Regions from separate parts of the Homo sapiens genome. Here region 2 is linked to region 1. Evidence: fine-mapped QTL for protein levels in blood plasma. A gene starts in region 1. The other region holds a variant in brackets. All regions are shown on one strand. Distances are between the middles of the regions. Region 1 holds the start of ESAM (endothelial cell adhesion molecule). Region 2 holds the start of VSIG2 (V-set and immunoglobulin domain containing 2).

Region 1 (8,916 bases):
TGTCTCCTCTGAGAAGAGGAATAATTCCCTGAGAAGGTAGTGATTTCATCTAGATAGCCACTCTCATACTTGAAAGCTTTCAAGACAAACTAAAGGATAGAGGGTAAATTCAGGGCAGTCTTAGCTCCAAGAAGCAGCTGATAACAAAATATTAATTCTCTGCCATCTTGCAAAGAAAGTCAAGGAGAGCGAGAGGACAGACTGAGAATGGCCACGTGAAGCCTCGCCAGAATGTTCCCAAAGCTCCTCCCCTAGAAGGTATGAGAACGTAGCAGGAAAAGTCTCAAGGATCAAGCTCCTTCCAGAGCCCGTTTTCAAGAAGCTGTTAGCACGCACACCCCCTTTCTTGCCTGTGTATGATTGTATGTAAGTGTGGTAGTTGAGTGTTTTTATAGGTTAAACCCGTAATTGATGTGGAGGGTAGTAGTTTGTTGCCAAGTTAATATTTAACGAACCAATCTTCCAGTATCAAAGTTTTGCTGTACTTGAGAAGCAAACTTTATATAGCTTCATATATATACAAATTACATGATTTAAGCAGCCCGTGAAATAAAAATTCCAGCATTTTCTGTCTTCTTCTGTTAAGTATATGAGTCAAAATTGAAATAATTCCTATATTTTTGCTTCCCTTTATAAAGGGTTTTCTAGAACAGTCTCAATTTATTATCTTGAATGTTGCTCTCTTGAAATCTAAGCCTAATGTGAGCCTTTTCCATCTGAATTCCCAGATCTTAATTCTGTGCTAACCTGACTTCTATTAATTTTGGGATTAGTAATGAATTTCAGACAAATAGAAAATGTCATTTTAAAAAGGTCATTAGCCATAATCAGTTGTATATTTTCCCACAGCACACACAAAGCCCATTATTGGACTTTCTGAATTTCCAGGTTAGAAATTAAGCTGTTAATTATTTTAAGTGACGCCAGATACTTTTCTAAATACAGCATTTTTCACCTTATTTTGGTAGGTAGGTAGGTCTGAAGGCCATCATAGACATAATAGCCACTTTAAAATATTATGATCCATAGATTTCTGAAATCCTAGAGTCTAAGGTATTGATTCTGATTATACAGTGAGGCTGTAGAAGTCATGGAAAGCAGTTTATCATTAATTCTTAGAAACTTGCTAGGGGTGTGTTTCTTTTCATTTTAATAGGTTGATTGTCTAGACTTACACTGCCCAGTACAGTAGCTGCTAGTCACATGTGGCTATTTAAATGTAATTTTAAACTAAATATAATTAAAAATGTAATACCTCAGCCACATTTCATGTTCTAGTGGCCACCATATTGGGCAGCAGATACAGAACATTTCCATCATCACAGAAAGTTCTATCTGACACCGCTGTTCTAGATACTTAGGGAATTTGACTTTTATTTGTCTTTCCAGGAAGAGAGACATCATGCAGAATATTGTACAGATTTTGGAATCGGTACAGTTGAAATGGGAACTTTTTCAGAGCTGGACAGACTTTTCAAGGCTCCATCTTTCTAATAAACTGGCCATTTTTGGAATTGGTTATAACACCCGTTGGAAAGAGGATATCCGTTACCATTATGCTGAGATCAGCTCCCAGGTGCCCCTTGGCAAGCGACTTCGGGAGTACTTCAACTCTGAGAAGCCTGAAGGACGGATCATTATGACCCGAGTGCAGAAAATGAACTGGAAAAATGTTTACTACAAATTTTTAGAGATCACTATTAGCGAAGCTAGGTGCTTGGAGCTGCACATGGAAATTGACTGGATACCCATTGCCCACTCCAAACCAACTGGTGGGAATGTTGTTCAATATTTATTGCCTGGGGGTATTCCTAAAAGCCCAGGCCTTTATGCCATTGGCTATGAAGAATGTATTGAGAGGCCCCTCTCACCACACATGGAGCAAAGTTCCCTGGACCCAGGAAAAGAGGGCCGGGTTGACCTGGAAACCCTTTCAGCACAAGCCTCATTACAGGTGGAAATAGAACCCACCCGAATTATCTATTGCTACCTCGGGATTGCTGAGGTCAGGACTCTACAGCAGTGCTTATTTTTACATTTCCAAGCGAATACCAAAACCTTCAGCAAAGATTGGGTTGGTATTAACGGGTTTTTGTCTCAGAACTGTATTGTGGATCCCGGAGTTTCCCCCAAATCCATCTACATCAAATTTGTAGAAGTAGAGAGGGATTTTCTTTCCGCAGGCTCTTTAGTTGAGTGCCTGGAAAAAGCCATTGGATACCCCTTAAAATTTAACAACTGAATGTCATCCTTCATAAGGATTTGGGCTCTTAGCTCCTTCTTCTCTACTCACTTCCCATTACCCGGACCACCCCTCATCCAGATGCCGCCGTCAGACTCTTCATGGAAACCCTTTCTTCAATTGGGCCAGTACGACTTCTAAGGAATCATAGTAGACTTGGGCCAGAAAAAACAGACCTCACCTGAAAATGCTCATTTTGAGCAAGCAAGATATATAGCGAACTTGCATGGTGGGTCAGCTATTTCTTTTTTAAAAACAGAAAAACAATTTTTAAATGGATTTTAGAGCCCTAATATAAACAAATGTAGGTACATTCCATATTGGACAAAACTTATACTTTGAGTTTCATATGAAATTGAAAAATTGTATTTTTTTCACAATGTTTCATTTTTACACATCTCTATGTCTCTATATAAGTAATATTTACAACCCTGAATAAATAAGCAATAGATAATGGCAAGTTAAATCTTGATTCACAGTTAAAAAGACTTTTTCAATATCACCCTTAGCTACTATTGTATATAATTTAGATTTTCATTTTTTTCACCAGCCAAGTGTTTTGCTATTTCCAATCAGTATTGCTTGCAAAGACCTTTGTTTCTGTGATGTACCAACTTTACAGTTGTGTTGCCATTTAAACCTTTTTTTAAAAAAAAAAAATTAAAGTAATTCCTGGCCCCTTGGCGTACTAGTTGAGCTTTTTGTAGCAGAGTGTGGCTGCACTGGCAGTGGGGGCTGCGCTCTGACTTGACTGCTAAGAATGAAGAGAACAAACAGAGCAGGGTATCTTCACATCCTTTCATTCTCTATACCTCACTGACCAATGTCATTATTTACTGTCAGAGTACCAAAGGTCACTGAACATCTCATTTTGTAATTCTTTGAAAAATGACTAAAAATGACTAGGATAATCCTTTTGACCCTAAGTACATCAATTTGTAAGAGACTCATTCCTCATCTTTTACACTCAGTACTCAGGGGCAGCTCTCAAGGAGTACAACTGGAAAACTGATGTAATCTTGCTATCTCTCAAAAGGAAGGAAGATCCAGTAGAAATTTTTTTTTTTTTTTTTTTTTTAAGACAGGGTCTTGCTCTGTCACCCAGGCTGGAGTGCAGTAGTACAATCATAGCTCACTGCAGTCTCGAACTCCTGGGCTCAAGTAATCCTCCTGCCTCAAAGCTTCCTGAGCAGCTGAAACTACAGGCTCAAGTGCCACCACGCCAGCAATGTTTTTCACTTTTTTTTTTCTTTTTTTGGTAGAGACATGGATGGTGCTATGTTTCCACCGAGCTGGTCTCAAACTCTTGTCCTCAAGCAATCCTCCCACCTTGGCTTCCCAAAGTGCCGAGATTACAGGTGTGAGCCACTGGGGCCAGCCCAAAAGTATTCTTTTAGGAGAGGGAATTGAGAAGTATGAGTCCAGTAGGAAGGTAACTGTCATGTTTAGATCTTTCAGAGATTTCTAATGGGCCAACCACCACTCCACTTACAGGTTCGTACTCTTGGCTCAGAGTCGCTTACTAATAGAGTAGTCAAGGATCACTTTGGTCTCATGGCAGGAATTTGTTAGATTGGTTATTTATCTTTATGATTTCCCAGCATCTCAGGTGCTCTACTTTAAGTGAGCCGCAAATCCAGGTAAGAACTCTCGTTCTTCTCATTTTTCTGTACTACTGAAGATATAGTTACATATTAACAAAAAGTGTTCTTTTCCTGCAGCCTGAATGTCTCAAATCAGTGATTTTCTCATTCTGATGCCTGTTGGTTGATTGATGCTTATTTATTTTTGTAATAACTAGAGAGCTTATAATCAGTGAGATGGCTTTTATTTCTGTTATTTGAGTCTGGGGTTATGGAGTTGGGTACTAGTTCAGGGAGGATATAAATAAAATGAGAATGTTTTGAGTGTAGCACCTGTTCTCCCCAGGCAGCATCTATAGTCAGAGGCCTGAGGAAATCCTCTTGAGTTTGCTCTTCTTTGGAACTTAGAATTCTGATCCTAATGGCTGAGGCAGTCTTGACCATCTTTTAGCCATAATCCCATAGTATTCATTGCTAAATGCTGTAGGAAGAAGGATTATTACCAGGAATTCTTCATGGCATCTCTAAAACGTTGCCACTGACGAGTCCCAAAACTAACATTATGCTCCATGCATTTTTTTTCTGCATCTTCCCATTGTTATTAGTTGCTCAGCTGGAGCAGAACATTTGGGGAACATTTCGTGAGGATGTTTTAGACCTACCAAACATTACCGAGAATGGGACATTGCTAGACCCACTATGAGCAGCATGGAGAAGATAGCAAAGGCTGGATCCAATAGATGTTTTCATCATTTGCCTTGGGATGGGTGGGGGTAGAGGACAAAGATGAGCATTGGGAAATGGAGGTTTACCAAGAAAGTAGCTTGCTGATACTGGATCTCCAGTCTCTTTGGCCAGAACAGTCTAGAAAAGAAGATAGCAGGATGTCAGATAACTATGAGCACTGCCGAAAATAAGAAATGGAATATTTAGACCTTAATGAAGCCTTATAACTGATTCAAGGGGGACAGAGAAAGTATATTCAAATGTAAAGGTAAATATTAGGAATTACTTTCGGAATCTAACATGAGATGTGATTGGAAGAAACACTAATGACCTGCAAGTCTCTAACATATGAAACTATGAACTAGCTCTTGCACACGTTTATGTAAGCAGTTCCCAGGTCGCACATAGATCATCTGTGTCAGCATTCATGATTTACACCAGGGTGGAGAGCAGTCCACCCTAAAATGCATCTTGGTGAAAACTTTCACAAAGTAATGGAGCTGCTCTGCTAACTTCTACGACTTGACTGCCCTCAGGGTCAGAAGAAAGAAATAGCTGAAATAGGAGACAGGAGACAGTGAGGACAATTCTTTACGGTCAAAGAATCTTGAAGAGACTGCCCCTGTGTCACATGGAGACATTCACTGACTACAAATCATTGGTTGCAGCTTTACTTCCCATGTCACAAGTCATTTGGGATCTGAATTCTGAAGGAAAAGTTAGCTACAGGGAATGAATGTTGAGGCTACACCTTATGTAGCACTTGATCAGGATAAGCACAGCCTGTGTGATTAGATACTTGGTGTTTCTGGGTTAGAACCAAAAGACTTTGTACTTCCTCTCTTGGAAGGAGTTACTTATTTGGGGTGACTTGTCTGGAAACAAAGGAGGGGTGTTTACAAGAGATGGTTTGCAATGCAGACTAAAGCCAAGAAAAATTTGAGTGTGATGGAATAGGAAAACCAAACCAACAGCCCCCAACCCCACCACACAATCTGCTTGGCCAAGTCCAAGTTTGTAGCTCCCTACACAAGAGTGTGAGACTGGCAGGTATCTCTTCCTGTTGTCTGTGCCTCCACTGAGCTGCCAAGTACTAGATTCTAGGGTTTGCATGAGCAGTTTTGTGTTTGCATAGGCATTTCTCAAAGCCACTGCATGGCAGGTATTTGAAGAGGAGCCAGGCAGGTCACACTAGAAAGAAGCAGCTGAGAGGGCATATGGGGCACTGTATAGAAAAAGATCTTGTGTGAAGTGTGGGCCCAGGGACTACACTCTGTTAAAACAGCAAAACTATGTGCAGTAAATGGAATCCCGCAGGCCTGGCTGCTTTTCTTCCCAGACAGCTCTGCCCGCAGAGCGGGCAGCGTCAGGAATTCGTTGTTATGCTTTCTTCCCTCACTGACCTTTGCTGGGTGGTTGAGCTGTGCTGGGATGTTTGAAGCATTTTTTTTTTTTTTTTTTTTTTTTTTTTTTGGCTGTTGGACAGAAAAGCAAGAACAGGTGCGTGCCTTTCTGTAAGGGAGCGGCGGCCGCCAGAGGGCGCAGAGGTGCCTTTTGACCGAATGGCGCGGGAAGGGGGGCGTAAAATTCAATTCACAGCGACCAAGATCTAGTCTCGGGAATTAAAGGATCAGAGCGCGCCTGAGCCTTTCGCTGCGGGGATGGGAGGCACTGAAGATTTGGGGGATAAAGAAGAAACGGAGGGACTGTCCTGTCTTCCTTCCCGCAGCCGCCCCTCCTCCCCAGTCAGCATCAGGCCCGTACGCCGCTCATTTCAGGGGCTAAGCTGGGAGCAGCACGCACGTTGCCTCAGTTTCCTGCTCAGCTCCCGGGACTACCTTGTGCCAACCTTCCCTGCTCGGAGTATGAGGCACAGGCCGGGGTAATCCTCCAGCCTGGGCTGGGGTCTGCTGAACTCGCGGAGCGCTTTTTCCTGCCCGCGGGTGAAGATTCCCCGCTGGCGCGTCCCGGGGCGCCCTGGGCTCCCGCGCGACCTCTGCCGTCGCCCTCGCTGCCGCGCTCCGGTGGCCGCGCAGCCCCCGCCTCCAGGAAAGCCACAGATTCCCGCTGTGCCAGGGAGCCCGCGCGGCCGGCGCTCCGGCCTCTCCCTGCAGCTGGAAAACGCTGCTCCCCTCTTCCTCCTTCAGGAAGACCGCCCTGATTGGGCCGGGGATGCGGCACCCCCAAGTTTGGAGCCAGAGCCCAGGAGCGTTTACATGTCAGGTGTTACGGGTGGTTCTGACTTCGGATAGTCCCCAAATTTCCCACCCTTCCTGGTCACCCTTCCTATCCCACCCCGGCGGAAGGGAAGGTTACGGCTCAGGATAGTTCTGGAGCCTCCTCTTCCCCCTCTACTCGTACCTGGCTGGCTCGTGGGGCATCAGAGCTTACCTCACCCCTCCCTGCGTCCAGACCTGGAGGAGGCCGCAGGGTCCCGCCGTCCGCGCGCTGGGGGCGCCCCCGGGCGGCGGACCCCGCGCGCCCCGCCCGGGAGGACGGCGACCTCTCCGCCCCCTCGAATGCCCCGCCCCGCTGTCGCCGTCGGTCCCCACCCCGCCACCGGCACACAGGCGCGCAGACTTGGGCTGGAGCCGCCCTGGGTGTCAGCGGCTCGGCTCCCGCGCACGCTCCGGCCGTCGCGCAGCCTCGGCACCTGCAGGTCCGTGCGTCCCGCGGCTGGCGCCCCTGACTCCGTCCCGGCCAGGGAGGGCCATGATTTCCCTCCCGGGGCCCCTGGTGACCAACTTGCTGCGGTTTTTGTTCCTGGGGCTGAGTGCCCTCGGTGAGTGAAACCCGGACCTGGAGGGGACTTGGGATGCGGGATGGGGTGAGTTCGACCCTGAGGGAGAACTTTGGCCACTGCTGCGGAACTGGGTCCCACGACTCGCCCTCCTCCCCTGACCTCCTAATCCCACTCCAGGGCATCACTGGCTGGCGCTGACTTCTCGCTTTGTCGGGGACAGCCCCCAGTTTGGGTGTGGGGGCGGATGGCGGGGGGAGGTAAGGGCATCTCTCGGAAGACCTGGATACCTCTGGGGTGAGTTATCGGAACCATTCCTCACCCTGTCCACTCCCCACCCCCCACCCAGCAGAGCCGGATGAGCTGAGCCGCTAGATGAGACACTGGCTAAAGAGCTTAAGGACTTAACTCTAGCCCCCTCTCATCCCCGACCCCACATACAAGCTGATGAGGAAGATCCCCCGGGGAAATACCCCTGGTCCCCAGGCTTGACACACGCACTTCGTGTCAATTCCCCAGCGCAGATGCTCTCTCTTGCCCCCTCCTGCTTCCTGCCCTGGGAATCAAGGGAGGTGCCCCAAAAGGACGACCGTGAGGTCATTTGGGACACAGGAAATGGGGGAGGGGTTCAAACGCACAGAGAAACAGAATTGTGACCACCCCACCCCCCCAAGGCCCACCACCCTTATTGGTTTCCAGAGCCAAAGGGAAGAGGGGAAATTGGGAGGAGGGTGGCCAAGGGTCAGAGAGGAAGGGAACCTCCTTGGAGCAAGTGTTTGGGAAGTGTTGTAGGCCTCCAGGGGCGCTGGCTTCAGCTGAAGCTGGGGTGGCTCAGAACTCCATCTGGGAGAGGACCCGGCAGGACTAGGCCCTTTTAAACTATTTCACTTGCTGTCCCTCAGCTTTCTTGCCATCTCCCTTCAAGGATCTCGAATGGGAGTGAAGGGTGGGTTTAGCTATATTGACTTTAACTCATTTCTCAGGTTGGAGGATGTCAGGACAAGTAAGGCCTGGGAAGCTGTAGAGTGAAATTCTACAATGATGGGGACAGAGATGAGGATCACCAGTGTCCCCTTTAGCATGTTCTGTGCCCCACAGGTGTCGGGGCATGCAATATTATAGTCCTTGGACAAAATGAGTCTCAAGTACAGCCCCCCAGGCCACACCAAGGCCACAAGTAGCCTTCTGTCCCTCTGGGCTTGGTGGGCCTGCTCCAGGATCCCTCAGACTTCTCATCCCGCCTTTCCCAACTTCAACTTCAGCTCTGTTCCTTCTGCATTCCACCCCAACTCTATCCCCCTTCCTTGTGGGGGGTGGGGGCTGGGGGAATCTCTGAAGCCAGGGAGGACAGTTCAAGTTGACTGCCTGAGTGTCCCAGGCTTCACCTGCTGCTCATCTGCAACCCTTTGTCCTACCCCAGCTTTGAGCCTCAGTTTGTCAGACTGAAGACCTGGACTCAAAAGTTCCAATCGGTCCCCCTGGGGGGTTGCCCAGTTCCCGCCAGCCACTCGAGGGTTAAATGGCACTGGTGACCCCGGTGCAACGTGCAGGCGCCCGGCTCCGCTCTTCTGGGCTCTGGAGGAGGCTCTCCGGCTCAGTAGGCTCCTCGGCGGCTCAGTGCTGCT
Region 2 (8,916 bases), 15 kb after region 1:
CCAGAGGGTCAAAGGGGACATTCCAGAGGAGGGACAAGATTTTTTTTTTTTTTTAATGGGAAAGAGGGTCCCTGGACTGATGGCTAAATTGTGTCCACAGATGTCATCCGTGGGTCTTTAAGCCTCACCAACCTTTCGTCTTCCATGGCTGGAGTCTATGTCTGCAAGGCCCACAATGAGGTGGGCACTGCCCAATGTAATGTGACGCTGGAAGTGAGCACAGGTCAGTGAGGGGTAAGTGTGGTTAAGAAGAGTGGTCAATGGTGGGGGAGGGGTTGCAAGTGGGGAGGAGGCCTGTCTGCTGAGGCCTGTCTCTGTAGCAGGGCACGGAGCTTCCCCTGATCAAATGTTTGTACAAATGGTTGGTCAGTGACTGGTCATTTCCTGCTCAACAGCCACCCCTCTTCTTGACAGGGAAAAAGAGGGAATGTGTATGGTGGCAGATGGGGTGGGGAGAGTGGGATTGGAGAGGGGTGAGAACCCCTCAGCTGGGTGTCCTCCTCTGACACGACGCCTTTTCCAGGGCCTGGAGCTGCAGTGGTTGCTGGAGCTGTTGTGGGTACCCTGGTTGGACTGGGGTTGCTGGCTGGGCTGGTCCTCTTGTACCACCGCCGGGGCAAGGCCCTGGAGGAGCCAGCCAATGATATCAAGTAAGTGTCCCTGGTGTCTGCTGCAGCGGGGGCTCTCCCAGCTCTCCTCACAGAGGCTGGGAATTCAGGCAGCTCTCATCTATTGGGATGGGGTCAGTGGCTGAAACATCATTCCTATGGGCAGGTTTTAAGGGAGAGGGAAAGGAGTACTGAAGTGTGCAGGCAGAGGTGGTATATAAGACCAAGCAGGTAGAAACTCTCTCCTCCTTCCCCCACCCACTTCTGACCTCTTGTTATTTCTTTGATGACTAGGGAGGATGCCATTGCTCCCCGGACCCTGCCCTGGCCCAAGAGCTCAGACACAATCTCCAAGAATGGGACCCTTTCCTCTGTCACCTCCGCACGAGCCCTCCGGCCACCCCATGGCCCTCCCAGGCCTGGTGCATTGACCCCCACGCCCAGTCTCTCCAGCCAGGCCCTGCCCTCACCAAGACTGCCCACGACAGATGGGGCCCACCCTCAACCAATATCCCCCATCCCTGGTGGGGTTTCTTCCTCTGGCTTGAGCCGCATGGGTGCTGTGCCTGTGATGGTGCCTGCCCAGAGTCAAGCTGGCTCTCTGGTATGATGACCCCACCACTCATTGGCTAAAGGATTTGGGGTCTCTCCTTCCTATAAGGGTCACCTCTAGCACAGAGGCCTGAGTCATGGGAAAGAGTCACACTCCTGACCCTTAGTACTCTGCCCCCACCTCTCTTTACTGTGGGAAAACCATCTCAGTAAGACCTAAGTGTCCAGGAGACAGAAGGAGAAGAGGAAGTGGATCTGGAATTGGGAGGAGCCTCCACCCACCCCTGACTCCTCCTTATGAAGCCAGCTGCTGAAATTAGCTACTCACCAAGAGTGAGGGGCAGAGACTTCCAGTCACTGAGTCTCCCAGGCCCCCTTGATCTGTACCCCACCCCTATCTAACACCACCCTTGGCTCCCACTCCAGCTCCCTGTATTGATATAACCTGTCAGGCTGGCTTGGTTAGGTTTTACTGGGGCAGAGGATAGGGAATCTCTTATTAAAACTAACATGAAATATGTGTTGTTTTCATTTGCAAATTTAAATAAAGATACATAATGTTTGTATGAGATAAGAAACAAGTTGCCTTTTCAAACTAAGAATTCTTGAAATTGAGCTTCAGGAGGATGCAAAGTGGACCCCTTCCCAAGCTGTGTACCCAGGAGGGCTTCCCCCCACAGGCTTAGAGCAGCTCTTCTAGTGTTTAGAAGGGTCCTTGTTTGTCACGTGGAGAAGGGGAGGAGACTCTAAGCTACTCTGAACAGCAGAGGGATGGAGTTGATACGCTTTCTGCTGGAGCTTGAGTGCTCCCGGCTAGGGGGTACGTGTACCTCATCTGCTTCCTCTTCAGGGACAGGGGAGAGGAAGCTCACGTGGGCTCCTCTCCCACACCACGGAATCCTTAACAAAACACTCCTTGCCCATCTGGAAGAGATCTCTGTTGTTACTGAGGGAGAGCTGGGCATAGTATGAGGTGCAGGTCTGTGTCCAAGTTCTGCCATGTTCTTTCCTACCAAGGGTGAGGTCTCCTTTAGGTCTCAGTTTCTCTGCCCCTAAAATGGAGTGGCTCTGGAAATGGAGAGATGCTCATTTCTACAGAGACTCCTACCTCAGTAAGTGGTGAAATGAAAAGCGCTGTGGACAGGAAGGGTCTGCGGCCTGGGGCTCACACTCACAGTGAGGCTCCGAGGTGGGGACTCCCCTTGCCAGCTCTGGGGTATCAGGACGCCTTCCAAAGTCAGCTTTCCTTCCGTCTCTGCAGAAGGCCCACCCCAAGCCCAGCGCTTTTCCCAAGGCCGGACAGCTTCAGACCTTGGGGAGAAGAGGAAGGAAGGAGGAAGAAGGGACAGAGGGATTGCAGAATCGGGGCTGGAGGAGAGGAGGGAGGAGCACTTTTTTTTTTTTTTAACCTGCGGCGCCGGCCTCTCCCCTGTTTGCTCTGAGATACCAGTCTCGCTCCTGCCCAGCCCGGGCGGCTGCCCTTGGGTGCTCCCTTCCCTGCCCGACACCCAGACCGACCTTGACCGCCCACCTGGCAGGAGCAGGACAGGACGGCCGGACGCGGCCATGGCCGAGCTCCCGGGGCCCTTTCTCTGCGGGGCCCTGCTAGGCTTCCTGTGCCTGAGTGGTGAGGAGGGGCCGGGCGGGACCACGGCGAGGGCTGGGGGGCATAGGCCTGGCTTCCCCGGCTCCTCGGACCCACTCTGTCCCCGCCAGGCCAGATGAGGCTGCCGTGGGCGCCAGGGGCCCTAAGGCGCCTGAGGTGAGGCCGGAGAGGGGGTGTCCAAGGCCCGGAGGGCGTAGGAGAGAGACCCCCAAGCCGGCGAGCGAGTTGGGCCTCTCCGCGGCACAGGCCTGAACCACCCCACCGCAGGGCTAGTGTTTTCCTTTCTCTGCTAAACACACACACCCTCTTACCTGGCCCGGTTCCGGCTCTTTTACCCACAAAGACCCGGCCCCTCCCGGAAACCTCAGGTTTTGGGAAGGGAGGGGTTGGATTGAGGGGAGAGGGTTGTGCTCTGGGGAGGGAGCCCCCAGCTTCCAATATAGATGCCCGGGGGTGGGCCCGACCCTCCAGATCACTGGAATTTGGGTTCCCACCTCCCTCTGGTCCCCGGCCCCAGGGCTGGCCGTGGAGGTGAAGGTACCCACAGAGCCGCTGAGCACGCCCCTGGGGAAGACAGCCGAGCTGACCTGCACCTACAGCACGTCGGTGGGAGACAGCTTCGCCCTGGAGTGGAGCTTTGTGCAGCCTGGGAAACCCATCTCTGAGTCCCATCCAGTGAGCTGAGAGCGACTGCATGAAGCTGGGTTGGCCTGGAGGGACAGGAGCCCAGGATGAGGGCATGGGGTCGGGAGGGGGAGTTTGGGGATCAGTATGCTTGGATGAAAAGGTAAGTGGGCTCTCCCTAGATCTTTTCAGAGCTGCAGTCTGCCTGACCGTGTATCTTCCTTTCCTCTTCCATAGCTCCTATTTCCAACTCCCCTGCCTTAGTGTATCCATTGACACTAAGGTGTTGTGACTGATACCAAGATAATATGCTGCCTCTTCTGCCTCTCTCTTTGAGAGAGAGAGAGAGAGACCAATGGATCAGGTTCATTTAGCACCTGAAAGGGGGTGGTGTTTGGGGACAGAGAGACCTTTGGAGTTCCAGCTTAAGGGTATCAGCCTCCCTGGCTGATGTAAGTCAGAGGCCTCTTATACCCACTTTGATGAGGAAGGACTGTAGAGTTGATGCCAGGCAGAAACAGGCACATATGTGTGTCTTCTGCCTCTCCCCAGATCCTGTACTTCACCAATGGCCATCTGTATCCAACTGGTTCTAAGTCAAAGCGGGTCAGCCTGCTTCAGAACCCCCCCACAGTGGGGGTGGCCACACTGAAACTGACTGACGTCCACCCCTCAGATACTGGAACCTACCTCTGCCAAGTCAACAACCCACCAGATTTCTACACCAATGGGTTGGGGCTAATCAACCTTACTGTGCTGGGTAAGGCAGACTGGGGATCCACGAGCCACATACTCTTTCACATACTTGGGGCGTTTGCACTGGTCTTGCTAAATCTCTGGTTTCTGACTTTTAGCCCAAGCACACAACTGCACTGGGGGCCCCAAGTGAAAATACTCCCTTTCCAAGTCTTCTAATTCAGATGGTCATACTCCAACTCCACCCTCCACCGAGAGCATCTCCTCCATCAGAGCCTAATAACAGAGTGTGTGAGAGAAAGTCCTTCCCATACATGGGGATCTGAGCCTGCTCCCAGCAGCTCCATCATGGGGGAGGCTCTCATCGGTAGTTGGATTCTGTCCCTCCCAAGGTCAATGGCAGAGAAGGGGAGTGGCCACCAAAGGAACAAGGGCCCCTATTACTGAGCACCAACTTCGTGCTCAGAGCTTCTGTCTCACCCCAAACTAGAGCCTTTTCAGAGATGAGCAACCAGAAAAACTATCACAGAGACTGGCAGTGTTTAGATGGAAAAGAGAAGGCCTCGGATGGGTGTATTACTGCTGGATTCAACTATCCAAAGGGCTGTCATGTGGAGGAGAGATTTTAATTTCTCTTTGTGGGCCCAAAGGGCAGGAACTGAAACCAATGGGTGGAGGTTATGTTAACACACATTTTGGCTCAACATGAAGAAGAATTTTCTCTAACAATCAGAATTTCCAATAGTGGAAATCCCTCAGTTCCTGGGGATGCAGTGGTGTGTGGACCCAAGAGGACCACTGTTTGATAGGGGTATTGAAGTAGAGAATGTAGCACCTAATGGAGTTGGGAGTGGGGCTGGAAGATTGCTGAGGAACTTTCTGTTTTTTTTTTTTTTTTTTTTTTTTTGCAGTTCCCCCCAGTAATCCCTTATGCAGTCAGAGTGGACAAACCTCTGTGGGAGGCTCTACTGCACTGAGATGCAGCTCTTCCGAGGGGGCTCCTAAGCCAGTGTACAACTGGGTGCGTCTTGGAACTTTTCCTACACCTTCTCCTGGCAGCATGGTTCAAGGTAAGGGCCCAGGGCATCAGGAAGAGGGTACTGGAGACCTGGGCAAATCTGGTCTCTAAATCCCACACACCCGTATTATCCGTTCCATGACTAGGGGTATGACACAAACCACTATACCTTTCCCTGTCTCTTCCTTGGCTTCCTGTATTGTTCCCTCCTGCCTGTCTTTCTGCAGTCTGTGGCTGCATGATCCTGG[G/A]GGTATTTCTCAAGCTGAATATACTGCTGATATCCTGGAAGAGAGTAGAGGGCAGGGAGCAATCTGATGATGACCACCCATCTGCCTTGGGGAGATTTCTTTTAGGTTTCCTAAGGGTCGTGGACCACTTCCAAACTTCCTAGAGAGGAAACTGAGGCAGAGTAGCATGGACTGGCTGGAATCTTTTAACCAGTTTCTTTGGAGGAGCCTTAGTTTCTTGGCTTCCTCTTCCTGGATCCAGTTCTCTCTCCAGCCCCAGCAAACTCCTTTATCAATCCAGAAATGAATGACCCACCCCCAGATCACCTTCCTGGTATGTGCTCTGCCTTCTAAGGCAAAGGTAAACAGTTTAGAAAAGCATTTGTGTCAGCTTAGAGCCACCCTACAGGATGCAGTTTCTAGCAATCAAGCCTTTTACCCCAAACCAGGAACCTGACATCAGCCAGTAAGCACCCCACCCCGACTCCATTGCCAGTTTCTGAATCCTTCATGAGTGTGCAGTCCTCCTCCTCCCAAAAAGGCAGCTATGTAGGGTGGAAAGAACAGGTAAGTTGTAGCAGCTTTGGAATTCCTCTCTGGGTCACCTCAGACACACTACTTCCTTCTTCTGAACCGGTTTCCTCCCCAGTGAAAAAAAATTAGTTGCTCCCTGACAGGATTGTTATAAGGATGACATGAAATGTGCTGTCCTCGTAGAGCTGCTCACTGAGTTGAATGAGTCGTGGAACACTTCCTCTTCATCCTCTAGATGAGGTGTCTGGCCAGCTCATTCTCACCAACCTCTCCCTGACCTCCTCGGGCACCTACCGCTGTGTGGCCACCAACCAGATGGGCAGTGCATCCTGTGAGCTGACCCTCTCTGTGACCGGTAGGGATGCTGGGTGGAGGCCAGGCCAGCAGCCTTGTGTTGGGGAAGCTGTCGGCTGGTGGGCCGAGGAAAGCCTGCAATTCTGAGTGAGGGTCCTGTATCTCCTTAGAACCCTCCCAAGGCCGAGTGGCCGGAGCTCTGATTGGGGTGCTCCTGGGCGTGCTGTTGCTGTCAGTTGCTGCGTTCTGCCTGGTCAGGTTCCAGAAAGAGAGGGGGAAGAAGCCCAAGGAGACATATGGGGGTAGTGACCTTCGGTGAGCAGGAGGGCTGGGGGGTGGCGCAAGGAGGGAGGAAAGGGCTTGAGTTAAAAGCGGGTGCCTGCAACCCTCAAACTCCGACATCATTCAGTGTGTTTAGGGGCAGGAGGTGTTGTTCAGCCGTGGAATTTGCTGGTGGCAGCAGTGTAACCTGTGTATTTGAGGGTACAGGCAAGCGGTACAGGGTGGAGTGGCTGGTCCACAAGCTGTGGCAGGGAAGCTGTTTGCAGGACTGCCCTGCCCCTCCTCATATTTAATAAAGTTTACTTTTCTGTTCCGAAGGTATTTTCATATATTTTAACCACCTGGGAGTAGTAGTGGCTTGTAGATGCCAGGAAATGGATTTGTCCTGAGCAGTCAGCTGAGTTCAATTCTTCTGTGGAGGAAATCAGGAAAGGGGAGGGGAAACTGCCTCTGTCATCCACTTTAGCTGCCAGTCAGGGTCTAGGATAGGGATCAGAGCAACATTTCTCCAGGTGGAGTCCTCAGATTACCTGGACAGAAATCACCGGGAACTAGTTATACATTCAGATTCAGGCCACTTCTAGCCTTCCTGTAGTTGTGCGTTGGGGAGTGATGAGGCCCAGAAATTTCATTTTAACCAAAGTTCCGCAGATTATTCTCAAGCACAGTGAAATTTAAGAGTCCCCAGGTTAGAGGACGGCCCTCCTCCGCAGGAGGCTTCTACTGTTCACTCAGAACTTGCCTATACCCATCAGGGAGGATGCCATCGCTCCTGGGATCTCTGAGCACACTTGTATGAGGGCTGATTCTAGCAAGGGGTTCCTGGAAAGACCCTCGTCTGCCAGCACCGTGACGACCACCAAGTCCAAGCTCCCTATGGTCGTGTGACTTCTCCCGATCCCTGAGGGCGGTGAGGGGGAATATCAATAATTAAAGTCTGTGGGTACCATACTGTCTCCTTCTTCTTTCTGCTGGTATGGCGAATTCCTCTAGGCGGCTCAGAGTATTAACAGTAAGAGAAGGAATGGGCTTGAAGTCCGAGAAAAGGTAGGCAGGAAGTTTGGTCGGGTCAAAGGGGTGGGTTTCAACCTAGGTGCCCCTCCACTTCACCCCACCAGCCCCCGATTGTTGGTTTCTGGTTTGGCCCAAGGAGGCTTGTTCAAGTTGCAAGCGGAGGCCTTGTGCACCCAAACTCCCTCCCCCGGCACCCTCTGAACACTTGGACATTCCTCTTTATTGTTCACATTCCAACCCAGCACAGTCACATGCACACACGGAGATCAGAAACCTTTCGGCCACAGCCCCAGGAGCCCGGCGGGGGGGAGGGCGGGACCGACAGGGGCGGGGCGGGGCCGTGGAAGACTCCTCCTACCGAGCCTCCCAGGCGCTCGGCGTTTGCATAAACAAGAGAGCTGGAGAGGCTGCCCTCAACAGTGCGCTGGGGAAAGGGGAGGGAACGTGACAGGCAGGTGTGGGATAGGGACTTCTCTTCCGGTCAGAGCAAGGGTCGTCCGAAACCAAAACAACCCTCTTCCCTTCATCTCGCCCCGGATCCAAAGTCTTGGGGCTAGGCTGGGGCGGGAGTGGCACGGAGATGTAGGGCGCCCCTTTTAGCTGCGCACAGAACGAAAGAACTCGTTTTTTCTTTAAGTGAGTGTGCTTGGGTGACGCTTAGGGCGCCCTCCGCAGTGCGCGCAGGAAAGCGCACTGAGGCTGCGGAGGCAGAGCTGCATGCTGGGTGCGGGAAGAGGTGGGCGAGAAGCAAAAGAAGGAAGATTGGGAGCGCATGGTTTAGGGTGGGGTGGAGTGGAAGGGCAAATGGGGACCATACTAGACTGCAGAACTAACTAAAAGGGCACGGACTCAGCGACTCCGCGACGGAGCCTGCCTGGGTGAGGGAGTCTCTGGGACGCAGGGGGCTCCTGTAGCTGGCAGGTTGCTGGGCAGGAGGGGGTCACAAACACGGCAGGGAAGTCTCGTCGCTGCGAAGGGGACGCGGCATCCATCTCTCCTCGGGAACTGAGGAGAGAAAAGGTCTGAGAACCTGCCCTCTTCTGCTACTTCCTCTTCCCCCCACCCTTCCCCCTTTCAGTACCAGGATTCTTTGGGCGGTGAGTGCCAGAGGGCCCCAGTCACCCAGAACCCCCACCCCGAGTCAAAGCGCTGAAATGAGCCCCGCGGCAGGTACGTGTGCGCGCCGCGATGTATTTCTGCCCCTTGGCCGGGCTTGTGCAGCCAAATGGGGTGGCTGCGCATGTCTTGGTCCAGGTATGTCCCCGTCGCAGCCTCGGGCGTCTGGATGTATCAGAAAACCCGCAGGGGCAGGGTGCATTTTCCCCGGCTGGGAGGGGTGAGGGTGGGCAGAGGGAAGGGCTGGGGATTCGATCCTTTTCTCCCACTCACGGGTCCCACCCCGCCGCCTAGGGGCCGTGTTCATTACCTTTGAAAATGCTCAGTTCTTCTTCGGTCCAGGGC

Evidence for each region. A credible set is the group of variants that fine-mapping cannot tell apart. PIP is the posterior inclusion probability: the model's chance that the variant is causal. Sun 2018 read protein levels with aptamers (SomaScan).
Region 2: its variant is the best candidate, but not a certain one, in a credible set for the plasma level of the ESAM protein (Sun 2018, PIP 0.57).

What each region holds. Positions count from the first base shown.
Region 1 is chr11:124,760,502-124,769,417 of GRCh38, reverse strand. ESAM (endothelial cell adhesion molecule) reads left to right here and starts at 7,128. Exons shown (of 7, transcript NM_138961.3): 1 at 7,128-7,333. The coding sequence starts at 7,264. It overlaps MSANTD2 (Myb/SANT DNA binding domain containing 2), which reads left to right. Exons shown (of 4, transcript NM_001308027.2): 4 at 1,390-2,920. The coding sequence ends at 2,242. ESAM-AS1 (ESAM antisense RNA 1) reads right to left here. Exons shown (of 2, transcript NR_120577.1): 2 at 3,493-4,689. RefSeq lists silencers at 2,931-3,225, 6,340-6,389, 6,930-7,339 and an enhancer at 7,070-7,573.
Region 2 is chr11:124,745,948-124,754,863 of GRCh38, reverse strand. NRGN (neurogranin) reads right to left here. Exons shown (of 4, transcript NM_006176.3): 3 at 8,882-8,899; 4 at 7,654-8,460. It overlaps VSIG2 (V-set and immunoglobulin domain containing 2), which reads left to right and starts at 2,609. Exons shown (of 7, transcript NM_014312.5): 1 at 2,609-2,787; 2 at 3,284-3,441; 3 at 3,943-4,150; 4 at 4,998-5,156; 5 at 6,101-6,220; 6 at 6,330-6,474; 7 at 7,197-7,390. The coding sequence starts at 2,727. The coding sequence ends at 7,329. ESAM (endothelial cell adhesion molecule) reads left to right here. Exons shown (of 7, transcript NM_138961.3): 5 at 101-223; 6 at 524-650; 7 at 903-1,738. The coding sequence ends at 1,218. NRGN-AS1 (NRGN antisense RNA 1) reads left to right here and starts at 7,899. Exons shown (of 4, transcript NR_197587.1): 1 at 7,899-8,091; 2 at 8,534-8,625; 3 at 8,866-8,916. RefSeq lists enhancers at 197-491, 2,850-3,411, 7,886-8,419 and a silencer at 7,660-7,919. The variant G/A (reference allele first, on the strand shown) is at 5,353.